Linked DNA regions of Homo sapiens. The protein of the gene in region 1 interacts with the protein of each later gene in a pairwise test. Each region holds a gene or a part of one and is shown on either strand. Other genes may lie near its edges.

What was found. The genes of interacting proteins can lie anywhere in the genome.
Region 2: the proteins of SOX30 (region 1) and FBXO38 interact in a two-hybrid assay, tested with the Homo sapiens proteins (one large-scale study listed by BioGRID and IntAct).
Region 3: the proteins of SOX30 (region 1) and NUDT3 interact in a two-hybrid assay, tested with the Homo sapiens proteins (one large-scale study listed by BioGRID and IntAct).
Region 4: the proteins of SOX30 (region 1) and DCAF4 interact in a two-hybrid assay, tested with the Homo sapiens proteins (one large-scale study listed by BioGRID and IntAct).

What each region holds. Positions count from the first base shown.
Region 1 is NC_000005.10:157,645,939-157,649,438, reverse strand, and holds part of SOX30 (transcription factor SOX-30), read left to right. Parts: intron 1-542; coding exon 543-782; intron 783-2,622; coding exon 2,623-2,802; intron 2,803-3,500. UniProt on the Homo sapiens protein: Acts both as a transcriptional activator and a repressor. Binds to the DNA sequence 5'-ACAAT-3' and shows a preference for guanine residues surrounding this core motif. Binds to its own promoter and activates its own transcription.
Region 2 is NC_000005.10:148,435,958-148,439,457, reverse strand, and holds part of FBXO38 (F-box only protein 38), read right to left. Parts: intron 1,127-3,500; coding exon 960-1,126; intron 1-959. UniProt on the Homo sapiens protein: Substrate recognition component of a SCF (SKP1-CUL1-F-box protein) E3 ubiquitin-protein ligase complex which mediates the ubiquitination and subsequent proteasomal degradation of PDCD1/PD-1, thereby regulating T-cells-mediated immunity.
Region 3 is NC_000006.12:34,382,670-34,386,169, forward strand, and holds part of NUDT3 (diphosphoinositol polyphosphate phosphohydrolase 1), read right to left. Parts: intron 1-3,500. UniProt on the Homo sapiens protein: Cleaves a beta-phosphate from the diphosphate groups in PP-InsP5 (diphosphoinositol pentakisphosphate) and [PP]2-InsP4 (bisdiphosphoinositol tetrakisphosphate), suggesting that it may play a role in signal transduction.
Region 4 is NC_000014.9:72,929,464-72,932,963, reverse strand, and holds part of DCAF4 (DDB1- and CUL4-associated factor 4), read right to left. Parts: intron 3,400-3,500; exon of another isoform or gene 3,208-3,399; coding exon of another isoform or gene 3,144-3,207; exon of another isoform or gene 3,000-3,143; intron 1-2,999. UniProt on the Homo sapiens protein: May function as a substrate receptor for CUL4-DDB1 E3 ubiquitin-protein ligase complex.

The sequences.
Region 1 (3,500 bases):
TTGGTAAGAGCTTCACCTTCGTAGTGAAATACAACTAATATAGTATTACAATATTATAAATAGTTTTGCTTGAAAGGACACAAGAGCAGCATGTAGATGAGTTCCTGTGAATGTTTAGAGAACCTCTACCTAGCTAAGATTATAGTCACGAGTAAGTCATGCATGGTTCCTGTTCCTTAATGGTAGAATATTTTTAGTAGTAAATAAATAAATGTTAATTATTGTTAGAGGTACTAATAATACAGATCAAAGAAGTAATAAGCCAACAATTTACTCTCTTCAACATGATTATTGCCACAGTTATCTTCAACAATATTATCCTCTTTGAGGAAAAGGAGTCATTCTAAACTACAGTTCAGAATGATGAGTTCAGGGGATGTAAGGAATTGTGGAATACTGGCAGGTTTTTTTGGTTATATTGAAGTGTATATTTCCTCCAGATATTTCAAAAATAAGTATAGACGGAGGTGCACTTTACCTTAAAATTGTGTGTGTGTGTGTGTATGGCACATTAATTTAGCCTTTTAATTTTTGTCATGTAGGCATACCAGATACTCCCTTCAGTAAGGACAGAAATGGTCATGTGAAGCGACCCATGAACGCATTTATGGTTTGGGCAAGGATCCACCGACCAGCACTAGCCAAAGCTAACCCAGCAGCCAACAATGCAGAAATCAGTGTCCAGCTTGGGTTAGAGTGGAACAAACTTAGTGAAGAACAAAAGAAACCCTATTACGATGAAGCACAAAAGATTAAGGAAAAGCACAGAGAGGAATTTCCTGGTAATCAAATTAAATAATGCCTCTTACTTCTTTTAAATGAATTTATTTAGTTAAAGATTAGGGTAGGTTGAGATTGAAAGACAAAAATATATAATTTTTTTCTGATATGTACAATAAAGAGAATAATGACTAATATTATAACAATGATTGAAATGACACTGGGCATGAGTTTCCTTAAATAGAACCAAGCAAAGGGATATCTGATTTCATATTCACCAACTCATACAAATCAGAGGACACGCAGTTTTATTGTGGTTTTGATTTAGATAGATGTAAGTTTAATGAAAGTACATCTTGAAAGCTTTAGGCTATAATTTTGCAAGTAAACTATAGAAGTGTTAAAATGATAGCAACAGAAAAAAAATGCAGTCTACGCTTAATGAGAATGCAGGGATTGTCACCATATTCCATTTTAACATATGATTGTCAGAACATAGTCCTGCCTTCTGATTGATAGATTTAGCCCTGTCATGATATAGTGTGAAAGGAGTCCGATTTCTCCCTAGCAGTGGGAACATTGGGATTAAGCTTGGAAAATGCACAGTGCATGGCCAGCATGTCTGTGCAAGGTGGGACAAAACTTATTATTTTCTGAAATATTGGCAGAGAGGTTCTAGTAATGAAGGTCAGAGGCAGCAACTACAGTGAACCAGTGATTGTTCTGATTACACAGTGGCTGCAAATGCCATAGTTCCACTGTTCTGACTTTGGAAGAAATTAAGTTATTTGTGGACTTGGAGATTGCTGAGTTTAGGAGAGTGACTCTTCTTGAACTAGGCACAAAATTAGTGACTGATCAGCCAGGCGCGGTGGCTCACACCTGTAATCCCAGCACTTTGGGAGGCCAAGGTGGGTGGATCACGAGGTCAGGAGATCAAGACCATCCTGGCTAACACAGTGAAACCCCATCTCTACTAAAAAAAAAAATAAAAAAATTAGCTGGGCATGGTGTTGGGCACCTGTAGTCCCAGCTACTTGGGAGGCTCAGGCAGGAGAATGGCATGAACCCAGGAGGTGGAGCTTGCAGTGAGCCGAGATCGTGCCACTGCACTCCAGCCTGGGCGGCAGAGTGAGACTCTGTCTCAAAAAAAATAGTGACTGATCATTAGTGACTATTGCATTGTAAGATATAGATGATTGTAACTTACAGAAAGTGAGGAAATGAGATGAATAATGTCATAGTGAGGCATTATTTGATAAGGTGGAGGAAAGGCTTTGGGATTCAAATACAGCGGTTTTGATGTTGACTCTACTACAGGTTCATTCTGTGTCATTGGTTATAAAACATTTGACCCTTGGCCAGGCGCAGTGGCTCTCGCCTGTAATCCCAGCCTTTGGGAGGCCGAGACGGGCGGATCACGAGGTCAGGAGTTCAAGACCAGTCTGGCCAACACGGAGAAACCCCGTCTCTACTAAAAATACAAAAAATTAGCCGGGTGTGGTGGCATGCACCTGTAATCCCAGCTGCTCAGGAGGCTGAGGCAGGAGAATCACATGAACCTGGGAGGCGGAGGTTGCAGTGAGCCGAGATTGTGCCATTGCACTCCAGCCCGGGCAACAGTGCAAGACTCCGTCTCAAAAAAAAAAAAAAAAAATTTGACCCTCTTCTTTTCAATGATGAGTTATAACATTGGCCACTAGTCAGGAGCTATTTGGATATGTATGTTAAAATACACAGTGGAGAAGTCATTCACTGAAATAATATCCCGGAGCTGGAAAAGATACTTTAGACAATAATTTGTTTTTAAAACACTTTAAAGTGCTTTGCATTTTAGTATGAAAAAAATTATTTAAAGGCTAAATGGAGTCTACACATTTAAACATATTTTGTCTTCTATAGGTTGGGTTTATCAGCCTCGTCCAGGGAAGCGAAAACGATTCCCTCTAAGTGTTTCCAATGTATTTTCTGGTACCACACAGAATATCATCTCTACAAATCCTACAACAGTTTATCCTTACCGCTCACCTACGTACTCTGTGGTAATTCCCAGCCTACAGAATCCCATCACTCATCCAGTTGGTGAGTTAGTTTTATTGTAGATTACTATTTTTTAAATAGCTGCAAGAAAATTTTACCTCAAGTTTGAAGTGTTCTTTCTGTTAGTCTTAAGAATTTGGAACAACAATGTTAAGAAAAAAAGAAGAGGGAAAGTGAGAACATTAAATAGGAGAAGGAAAAATTTCAGTAGAGATCAAAACACTTGGTTTGCCAGAGTAGCAAATAATCCATGTGTAAAACCTCAGACCTTTTAAGCAAATCAGGATGAGCCCATAGATTAGGCAGATAATGCAGGAAATAACTGAGGTAATTCAATAGGAAAAAGGAGAGTCTTTTTACTAACAGCATAAAAGACTGCCTTGCTAATGGGGTATGAGGCATCCTGTCCTGGAACTTAGTAATGATACTGATTTGTTGAGACCATTCTCTCACTGCTCTAGAAAAGCAGTGGAAGTAATCTATTTTCTACCAAATATTTGTTTGGTTCATTATATTAATCTCTCTAAATGTCTCCTCTGAGTTCTTTACATTCCTGTTACTGATTTTAAGAACCAAAAATTGACAACCTAATATCTTAATAACTTGTTATAGGGCTATCCATCATTGGTTTGTTTTTCCAGAACAGTTTTTTTTTTTTTGAGATGGAGTTTTCGCTCTTGTTGACCAGGCTGGAGCAATGGTGCAATCTCAGCTCACCACAACCTCCGCTTCCTGGGTTC
Region 2 (3,500 bases), 9.2 Mb from region 1:
TAGGGAACTTGGCAATTTATATCTCACTGTTATATTTAAATGCCTACTAAACCAGAGAATCCTGATTGAGATAAATGACGTCAGTCAACTCAGAATCCACTTCTGTGTATGTCCTTTATTAAGTACTGACTGCATTATAGAACTGTGAATGTGTAGTAACATATACCCTATTCAAATGAGACTGCTGCCCAGTCTTTAAGAGAGAATGCATTTTCTTGTCTTCTAGGAGCCTTTGATAACATTGCTTTTTTCTCATGGCATACCCTCCCCCATCTCTAGTTATGAAATCTCACTCGGCCATCTGCGTGGCATAAGTGTTTGTCTCCTTTTTGGGAAGGCAAACTCCTTGAGGGAAGGATCATGTGTTGTGTTTTTATTTGCACCCAGCATATTTTAAGTTTTGAGACACTTGACAATATGATGAACTGACTCTTTTGAGGCCAGGCTTACACACTGATTACAAAGAGGCATTTAAAATTTCCTTTAAACCCTCTTTTGGCATTAAGCACAGAACCTTATATACAATATACTCTTAATAATGATAATGACACTAACAGTAGTTATATGATGGCTTACTATATACTAGCACATGTTTTAGAGTTTCACATATATTAAATATCACAATAATCCTGGGTATATCATTATTATTCTAATTTTACAGATGAAGAAACTAAGACATCGAAGTCAAATAATCTGCTACAGGTCAGACAGCCAGAAATTTAATCAGGCAGTCTGAACCAGAGACTGTGCTCTTAAACCACAGGTAACTTTTAATAAGTATAAAAACCTGTTGAATAACAACTCCCTATATCATACATAACCTGTAAAAACTAAAATATCATTACTGTAGGTTGGGCAAGTGAATGAATGCCAAATCCAAAAGGCTAAAGACTAACAAGAAAAAGAAAAAGAAAAACACCACAATATGTGTATCATCGGAAAGAAGCAAAGCTCGTTACCTGCTGCATTGGGCGTAGGTATATGATGCGGTTTCTCTCGGGTGGCATTCTTAGTATCTGGTCTAGTACCTGATCCATGTTCAGTTTCTTGCACTGTGCATAGTCAAATCGGTTTACAATTGGTGCATTTTCTACCTTTAAATGTTTTAGTACCCTGCACCTGGTAGCTACAAAATGAAAACAATGGTAAGCTCCGTACATATCATCTTTGGAGAGATGGCCTAATTTTTGTTGGCACAAAATACTGCAGTAACAAACATCTTTAACAGAGGTCAAATAATATCATAGAGTACAAATCACAGTTAACAAAAAAATTTGAAAATGTGGTTCTGTTCAATTCAAAAGAAGGTAGAAGGGGCATTAAAGTGCCTTTTTCTAAGATTTTACTGTTAAGAAAACCAAGTCTCAGAAAATGACTTGCCCAGACAGAAACTGTTTAGGAAATATTTATTTAAAAAATGAGTAACTATTATACATTTTTATAGTCAATAGTCAGACCTGAAATAATTCACCTATGTTACCTTACATTCACTCTCAGGAATGAGCAGAGTTGGATTTTAATTCCTGTCACAAACGTAAAAGTAGAACCTTGAAAAAAAAGACCCAGAAACACATTTGGATACTTTGGTCTAAAGCTATTCAGTCCAATCTAGTAGCCATGTGGTTAGTGGTTACCATAATACTGAACAGTGTAGACACAGAACATTAAAGTTCTATTGAAATGCTCATCTAAAACATGATTAGTTTTTCTGTTTGACATATAAAACATGAAGTCAGAAAAAAGTAATTTTGATATAATAAACACATTTAACTGAACTAGTATATCAACTTCAGAAAAATATTTCCTTCTCTTTTTTTAATCTCCAATTTCAACCTGGTCCAATTTTCACTGCAGATTTCAACCAGGTCCAACTTGAGAGAGATCAAATGGAAAAGATTATAAAACCACAGGCTCATTTGTCTGATCTTAACATTTCACAGACATCTGTAACATCCTTGACCCAAATGTCATCATCGTCTTGTGCAATCTAATGTAACTAACTTGACATTTAAACACTGAGAGAGACTCCCGCCTCTCACGTTCATTTTCTCCTTTTGTGACTTGGTGGAAAGAAGGGGAACTGTTGTTGAGGACAGCAACAGAGGAAAGGAGAGCGCTAGATGACAGTAAGGATCCAGTGGTTCTTAGCTATAAAATCCGACATGACTAAGGTCAGTTCTAATCTCATTTAATCATCTCCGCTGTCATTAACTTAGCCACTACCTACAGACTAAGCTAAGATCCTCTCACCACGATAAGCTGAGCCAAACAATTTGGTTTAAAGGGGAGAAGGTTGGGCCTGAGGCCGTGTGATCCATCATTAGGTTAGAGAAGGTACAGGAGAAATCATCAAAGTAAAAAGAAGAAAACTAGTCAGATTCTCGGAGAGCTCAGAGTAGAGAAAGGAATGGAACGAGATGCCGACTGGCAGAGTCTGAAGATTGAGTTTTACATTCTCAGAGCTCAAAGGGTGTAGGTACTGACAGAATGAAAGTTCTTCCAGTGCTACTGTAAGGCTAGGGTGAGTACCCCTACTGTTACAATCTCTGAGCTTTTGAAGAGCCTGTGTTCTCCACTGTAAAAGGAAACTCCAATAGGAGATAGTAATTTAAGATGTTTTAGGACCAAAGACCACATTGGCTGGGATAGAGAAAAGTACTACTACTTCAGAGTAAACAATAGAGTCTGGGGTCCCCAAGGTCTGAACTTTTGTAGAATTCAGAGGAGAAGTAGTGCTTGAATCTCAGTTTCATCTCTCCTTTCTTGGGTTCTCCTCAGTTTATGACAATATGTTTGGTAAATACCTTTTAATGGGATTTCTTTGTTTACTACTAATATGGTAGGAGATATAAAACAAAATAGACCTCAATATTTTTTGGCAATACAGGTTGACGAACCTTTATCTGAAATGCTTGGGACCAGAAGTGTTTTAGATTTCAGATTTTTCTTCAAATTTTGGAGTATTTGCATTATATACTTACCCTAATCAAAAAAATCTGAAATCTGAAATGCTGCTCCAATGAATATTTCCTTTGAGCATCATGTTAGTGCTCAGAAAGTTTTGAATTTTTAAGCACTTGGGCTTTCTGATTTTTAGATTAGAGATGCTCAACGTGCACTAACATAATACAAATTAACATCACTAGGCATTACTAGAGGTCAGACCCTGTACTGTGTGTGTGGGTGTGTGCATATGTCATGTATATATATACATATACAGGCATTTCTCATTTTATTGCACTTTATTGTGCTTCGCAGACATTACACTGTTTACACAAGGTCTGTGGCAACCATGAATTGAGCATCTACTGGTGCCATTTTTTTAGTAAGCACGTGCTCCCTTTGAGTCTTTGGGTTACACTTTAATAATTCTTGCAGTATTTCAAACTTTTTCATTATTATTTTATCCATTATGGTGGTCTATGATCAATGATCTCTGATGTTACTGTTTTAATTGTGGGGTGCCACAAACTGCACCAATATAAGTGAACTTAATAAAT
Region 3 (3,500 bases), on another chromosome or scaffold:
ACTAAAAATAAATTAGCCAGGCATGGTGGTGCATGCCTGTAATCTTAGCTACACGGGAGGCTGAGGAAGGAGGATCGCTTGAGCTCAGGAGGTCAAGGCTGCAGTTAGCCATGACTGCATCACAGCACACCAACCTGGATGACAGAGCAAGACCCTGTCTCAAAAAAAAAAGGAAAGGCCGGGCGCGGTGGTTCTCACCTGTAATCCTAGCACTTTGGGAGGCCGAGGAGGGTGGATCACAAGGTCAGGAGTTCGAGACCAGCCTGGCTAAGGTGGTGAAACCCCTATCTCTACTAAAACTGCAAAAATTAGCTGGGTGCGGTGGCAGGCACCTGTAATCCCAGCTACTCGGGAGGCTGAGGCAGGAGAATCGTTTGAACCTGGGAGGCGGAGGTTGCAGTGAGCCAAGATGGCGCCATTGCACTCCAGCCTGGGTGACAGGGCAAGACTCCATCTCAAAAAAAAAAAAAAAAAGGAAAAAAGAAAAATCACAATCCTTCCTCCTTTTAAGAAAAGCATAAGCACTATGTCTGAGCTCATACTCCTTTTTATTCATCATTGCTAAGCTGCTCTTACAAAACACATCAGAAATATGTTAAATAACCAAGCCGAAGAAAAGATTTTCTAAGCAGTTCATAAAACTTTACTGTTTTATGAACAAAGAGATCAACTAATTGTATACAAAGGAAGTCTATTTAAGGGATCATTTCATTTTATGGTGTTTTCTTTTTGGAGCCAGGGTCTCTCTCACTCTGTTGCCCAGGCTGGAGTGCAGTGATGCAAACACAGCTCACCACATCCTAGACATCCCCAGCTCAAGCGATCCTCCCACGTAGGCCTCCCAAAATGCTGAGCAGTCTTATTTATCCATGTATTCCCAAGGTCTTACACAGACACTCCAAAAATGTGTGCTGAAGAAATGAATAAACAATTGTATTCCTGAACAAGGGCCCTTCCTTTCTGTACTAGGCTATGAAGATATAGATTGCTTCAGACACAGCACACAGTAGATGTGCAGCACTATTTTTATTGAGAAATGAGAATTAAAGCAGAAACAAAGAAGTAGGATTGGGGCAAAGACATAAAAAGAATGGAGACTGCAGTATGAATTCAGACCAGAATTCACACCTTGGGAAGGAGGCAAAAAATAACGTAATGGAAGACATGACTAACTGGTATTAGGCAAACAGAAGGGAAAGCAGGGGAAAAAAGCTTCCAGGAAAGATTTTGAGAAATGAGAAGCAGAAATGTCCAGTCATGACGGGATCAATGAACCCATCATGATCTTAGAGCAATGTAATATTGAACGGTGACCAAGATGTGTTACAAAAGGACTCCCAAACCACCTTGGGATCTGCTGGAAGCCCTTTGTCATGATTATTGCCTCTGGGATTGCTACCTGTGTCTTACTCTCTTCTCTAGAGCCTGCTGGAAGGTGCAGTCTGCAGAGACGTCAGTCCACCTGCTCCTCTGGGGCATTTTACAGACAAACAGGCCACCAGTCTCTGCCCACTGAAGAGCTCCAATGTCAATCATCTCTCCGTTCCAACCTGGTGAGCTGAAGGATCTGAGAAAATGTGAAGCAGCTCCCCTTTGCCAAGAGATATAGGGCTTCTAGTGGAAAAGTACAACAAACGAACCTAACAACTTAGGAACAGCTTCATCCTTTCTTTATTAAAACAGCTTTAAGGCACAGGGAAATCTAACTCACACAATCCTATTAGTAGTCATTTTTCTCCCTGGGTAAAAACAGACCCGTTAGGAGCAGCTTTAACTTTCCTAGGCACTGTGATGTCATTTGTTGTATGTTCTGTATCATTTGGCCTTTCTAAGAGTACAAACAAGCCCATCCCTGTCTCTCACTTCTCCTCACAGAGGCTCTAAAAAAGGAAAGGCTGGGGGAAGAGGGATAATCTCACTGGAAGTACTTTAGCAGGGCCAAAGTTGAATAATATGACAGATGAATATCATATTACCCAATTTTGGATTATAAAATCTTACTCAAGAAGTTACAGTCTTCCACACAGTGTATGATAAAGTATCAAGTAAAGGATACGGTTGATTAAAAAATATAAATGTAGGTTGGGCGTGGTGTCTCATGCATGTAATCCTAGCACTTTGGGAGGCTGAGGTGGGAGGATCGCTTGAGCTCAGGAGTTCAAAACCAGCCTGAGTAACATAGTGAGACCCTGTCTCCACACACACACAAAATAGCTGGGCAAGGTGGCAGGCACTTGTACTTCCATCTACTTGGGAGGCTGAGGTGGGAGGATCACTTGAGCCTGGGAGGTGGAAGCTGCAGTGACCTGAGATCGCATTACTGCATTCCAGCCTGGTCAACAGAGCAAGACCCTGCCTCCAAAAAAAAAAAAAAAACTCAAAACAAGATCTTGGCCCTAAGAACAAAGATTAGCAGATAAATATACATTTATATATACATACTTTATATATTACTAATTATATATTATGTGCAAAGAGGAAGCAAATGAAAATATTAAATAATCAGGCCAGATGTGATGGCTCATGCCTATAATCTCAACACTTTGGGAGGCCAAGAAGGGAGGATCACTTGAGCCAGGAGTTCCAGACCAGTCTGGGAAACATGAGACCTCATCTCTACAAAAAATAAAAAATATGGCCAGGCACAGTGGCTCATGCCTATAATCCCAGCACTTTGGGAGGCCGAGGCGGGCGGATCACCTGAGGTCGGGAGTTCGAGACCATATTACATATTATTAGCAAATAAATCTTTTATATGTATATAAACATGTAGTTATTTGGTAATCTTTGTAGGGCCAAGATCTTGTTTTGTTTTGTTTGTTTGAATTGTTAAGTTGTCTTTCTTTCATATGCCACATCCATAATCAATGACCTATGTTTTCCAGTCCTAGTTTTTATAAAGAACAAAAACCTAAAAACATTCATGAAGTAATCTATGTGCAGAGTCCTTCTAGACTTTTAAGATCCCCTCTCCAGTCTTCTCAGTTTGTTTGTCCATATAAGTGAGCAGTAATTTCTTTTTTTTTTTTTTTGAGACAGACTCTTACTCTGTCACCTAGGCTGGAGTGCAGTGGCGTGCTGTTGGCTCACTGCAACCTCCGTCTCCTGGGTTCAAGCAATTCTTGTGCCTCAGCCTCCCATGTAGCTGGGACTACAGGCTGCACACCACCGTGCCTGGCTAGTTTTGTATTTTCAGTAAAGAGGGGGTTTCACCATGTTGCCTAGGTTGGTCTCAAATTCCTGGGCTCATGTGATCCGCCCACCTTGGTCTCCCAAAGTGCTGGGATTATAGGCGTGAGCCACCATGCTGAGCCTTGTTCTTTTCTGAACTCAAAGTTCACTGGTTAAGTTGCACAATTACAATAACAAGTACAATGAACATAAACAGATAAAGGAATAGAGGTAACTAATTGTAATCACACAATTTGGCAGCTGGGAGGCCACCTGGTTGGGGTACACCAGACCCAGCAGCCTGCTGTGTAACAGCCAAGCATTCAGTG
Region 4 (3,500 bases), on another chromosome or scaffold:
AGTTCAAGACCAGCCTGCGCAACATAGCAAGATCCCGTCTCAAACAAACAACATTAAAAAAAAGAAAGAAAGAAAGAAAGAAAAAAAAATTATTCAGCTGGGTGTGATGGCTCACACTTGCAGTTCCAACTGCTTGGGAGGCTGAGGTGGGAGGATGGCTTGAGTCCAGAGTTTGAGACCAGTGTGGGCAACATAGCAAGACTCCATCTCAAAAACAACAACAAAAGAGTTACCTGGCCCAAAACAGTGCTAAAGCTGAGAAAACCTGTTCTATGTAGGAAGCACTCGAAAACAATTTGCTGGTAACATGCTGCATCTAGCACCTTTGGAGCTGCTCTAGATGTTAAAATCAGGTGTGTTGCAGAAGGTTGGGCTTGCCTTTGTCTTTCAGAGAAACTTTTAAGTACCTCAAGGCATTAAGAATTATAATTTCTAAGAGACTACTATTCTGCAAAGGCAATGTTAATCACAAATAAACACAATTTGGTTTTTTGGAAAATGACTGGAAAATATTTATCAAGTAACTTACAAATGTACATGCCTTCCTTCTGGGAACTGCTCCTACAAAAATGATTCCAAGATATTTACTACATTTTTCCGAATCATTTTATAAGGCCAGTATTACCTTGTTACCAAAATCAGACAAAGATATAGGAAGAAAAATATAGGTCAAGGCCGGGTGCAGTGGCTCACGCCTGTAAGCCCAGCACTTTGGGAGGCCAAGGCAGGCAGATCGCCTGAGGTCAGGAGTTCAAGACCAGCCTGGCCAACATAGAGTGAAACCTCATCTCTACCAAAATACAAAAAATTAGTTAGGCGTGGTGGTGCACACCTGTAGTCTCAGCTACTTGGGAAGCTGAGGCAGGAGAATCGCTTGAACCTGGGAGGCAGAGGTTGCAGTGAGCCGAGATCATGCCACTGCACTCCCGCCTGGGCAACAGAGCAAGACTCCATCTCTCAAAAAAAAAAAAAAAAGAAGGAAAAATATAGGTCAGTATGGGTTATGAATACAGAGACACAAAAATCCTTAACAAAATGCTAGCAAGCAAAATCCAGGAGCATATAAAAAGAATTATATACCAAGACCAAGCGCGATTTATCTCAGAAATATAAGGTTGGTTCAACATATGAAAATCAATCAATATACCATACTAATAGATGGGGAAAACCTCACATGATTTTCTCAATTGATACACAGAAAAAGCACTGGACAAAATGCAACATCCTCTCATGATTAAAAAAACATTCAACATACTAGAAACAGAAGGTAGTTTCCTCAACCTGATAAGGAGCATCTACAAAATACCCACACCTAACATCATACTTAGTGGCCAAAGACAAAGTTTTCCCTCTATGGTCAGGAATAAGACAAAGATGTTGGTTCTCAATACATCTGTTCAACATTGTAGTGGAAGTTTTAGACAGGCAATTAGGCAAGACAAAGAAAAGGCAACCAAACATGATCTTATATACAGAAAATCCTAAAGAATCCACCAAAAATCTACTGGACCTCACAAATGAATTCAGCAAGGTTGCAGGATACAAGATCAATATAGAAAAACCAGTTGTATTTCTATACACTGGTTCAGGCAATGAACAGCCTGAATATGAAAGAAAAGTTACATTTACAATGGCATCAAAAAGAATAAAGCACTCCTCTGGTCCTGCTCAGGCTCAGTTACAAAAAAAAAAAAAAAAAAGAGAAAAAGTACTTAGGAATATATTTAACAAAATTAATATATGGCGTGTACACAGAAAACTATAAAACACTGTTGAAAGAAATTACAGATTGAATGCAATCCCTATCAAAATTCCAAATGCCATTTTTTTAGCAATGGAAAAGCAGATCCTAAATTCATATTATGCAAGGGACCCAGAATACCCAAAATCATCTTGAAAAAGAACAAAGTTGGGATGACTCGCACCTCGCAATTTCAAAATTCATTACACAGCTACAGTAATCAAGACACTGTGTTACTGGCATATGGATAGAAATATAGATCAATGGAGTAGCATTGAGACCAGAAATAAACCCATATGCCTATCTATGGTCAACTGGTTTTCATCTAGGTGCCAAGACCATTCAATGAAAGAAAGAAGTGTCTTTTCAACTGCTGGGACATTTGAATATCAAACTGCAAAAGAATGAATTTGGATCCTTACTTCATACCATATGGGACAAAAATGAACCAAAATGGATCTCGATCTAAAACTATAAAACTCTTTGAAGGAAACAAAGGTATAAATCATCATGATCTTGATTAGGCAATGATTTCTCAAATATGACACCCAAAACTCACACACACTACATATATATATATACACACACACATACACACATAAATTGGGCTTCATCAAAATTGAAAACTTCCGTGCATCGAAAGACATTATTTAGGGCCGGACACAGTGGCTCACGCCTGTAATCCCAGCACTTTGGGAGGCTGGGACTGGCGGATCACTTGAGGACAGCAGTTCAAGCCCAGCCTGATAAACATGGCGAAGCCCCGTCTCTACTAAAAATACAAAAATCAGCTCGGTGTGGTGGCGGGCGCCTGTGGTCCCAGCTATTTGGGAGGCTGAGCCAGAACAATCGCTTGAACCCGGGAGGTGGAGGCTGCAGTGAGCCGAGATGGTGCCACTGCATTGCAGCCTGGGCGACAAGAGCGAAACTCCGTCTCAAAAACAAACAAAAAAAACTCCGTCTCAAAAAAAAAAAAGAAAAAGCTACACAAATAGCCAACTGGCACATGAAAAGATACCCAACATCATTAGTCCTTAGGTAGATGCAAATCAAAACCACAGTGAGATACCACTTTATTTATTTAATTTTATTTACTTATTCCCTCCTACCCCCCTTTTGGCTGAAGTGCAGTGGCGCGATCTCCGCTCCCGGCAACCTCCATCTCCCCGGCTCAAGCCGTCCTCCTGCCTCAACCTCGGAGTAGCCGGAATTACAGGCACGAGCCACAACACCAGGCTAATTTAAAAAATATTTTTGGCCTTCCGCCACGGCCGCCATGGAGAGCAGCAGCCATGGCTCTGCGCTACCTTATGGCCGTGGGCCTCAACAAGGGCCACAAGGTGACCAAGAACGTGAGCAAGCCCAGGCACAGCCGCCGCCGCGGGCGTCTGAGCAAACGCACCAAGTTTGTAGCGGGACATGATCCGGGAGGTGTGTGGCTTCGCTTCGTACGAGCTGCGCGCCATGGAGTCACTGAAGGTCTTCAAGGAGAAATGGGCCCTCAAGTTCATCAAGAAAAGGGTGGGGACGCACATCCGTGCCAAGAGGAAGCGGGAGGAGCTGAGCAAGGTACTGGCTGCCATGAGGAAAGCCGCTGCCAAGAAAGACTGAGCCCCCTCCCCTGCCCTCTTCCTGAAATAAAGAACAGCTTGACGGAAAAATAAAATAAAAATAAAAAATATTTTTGTAGAGACGGGGTCTCGCTTTGTTGCCGCCCAGGCTGGTCTCGAATTTCTGGCCTCCAGCGATCCTCCTGCCT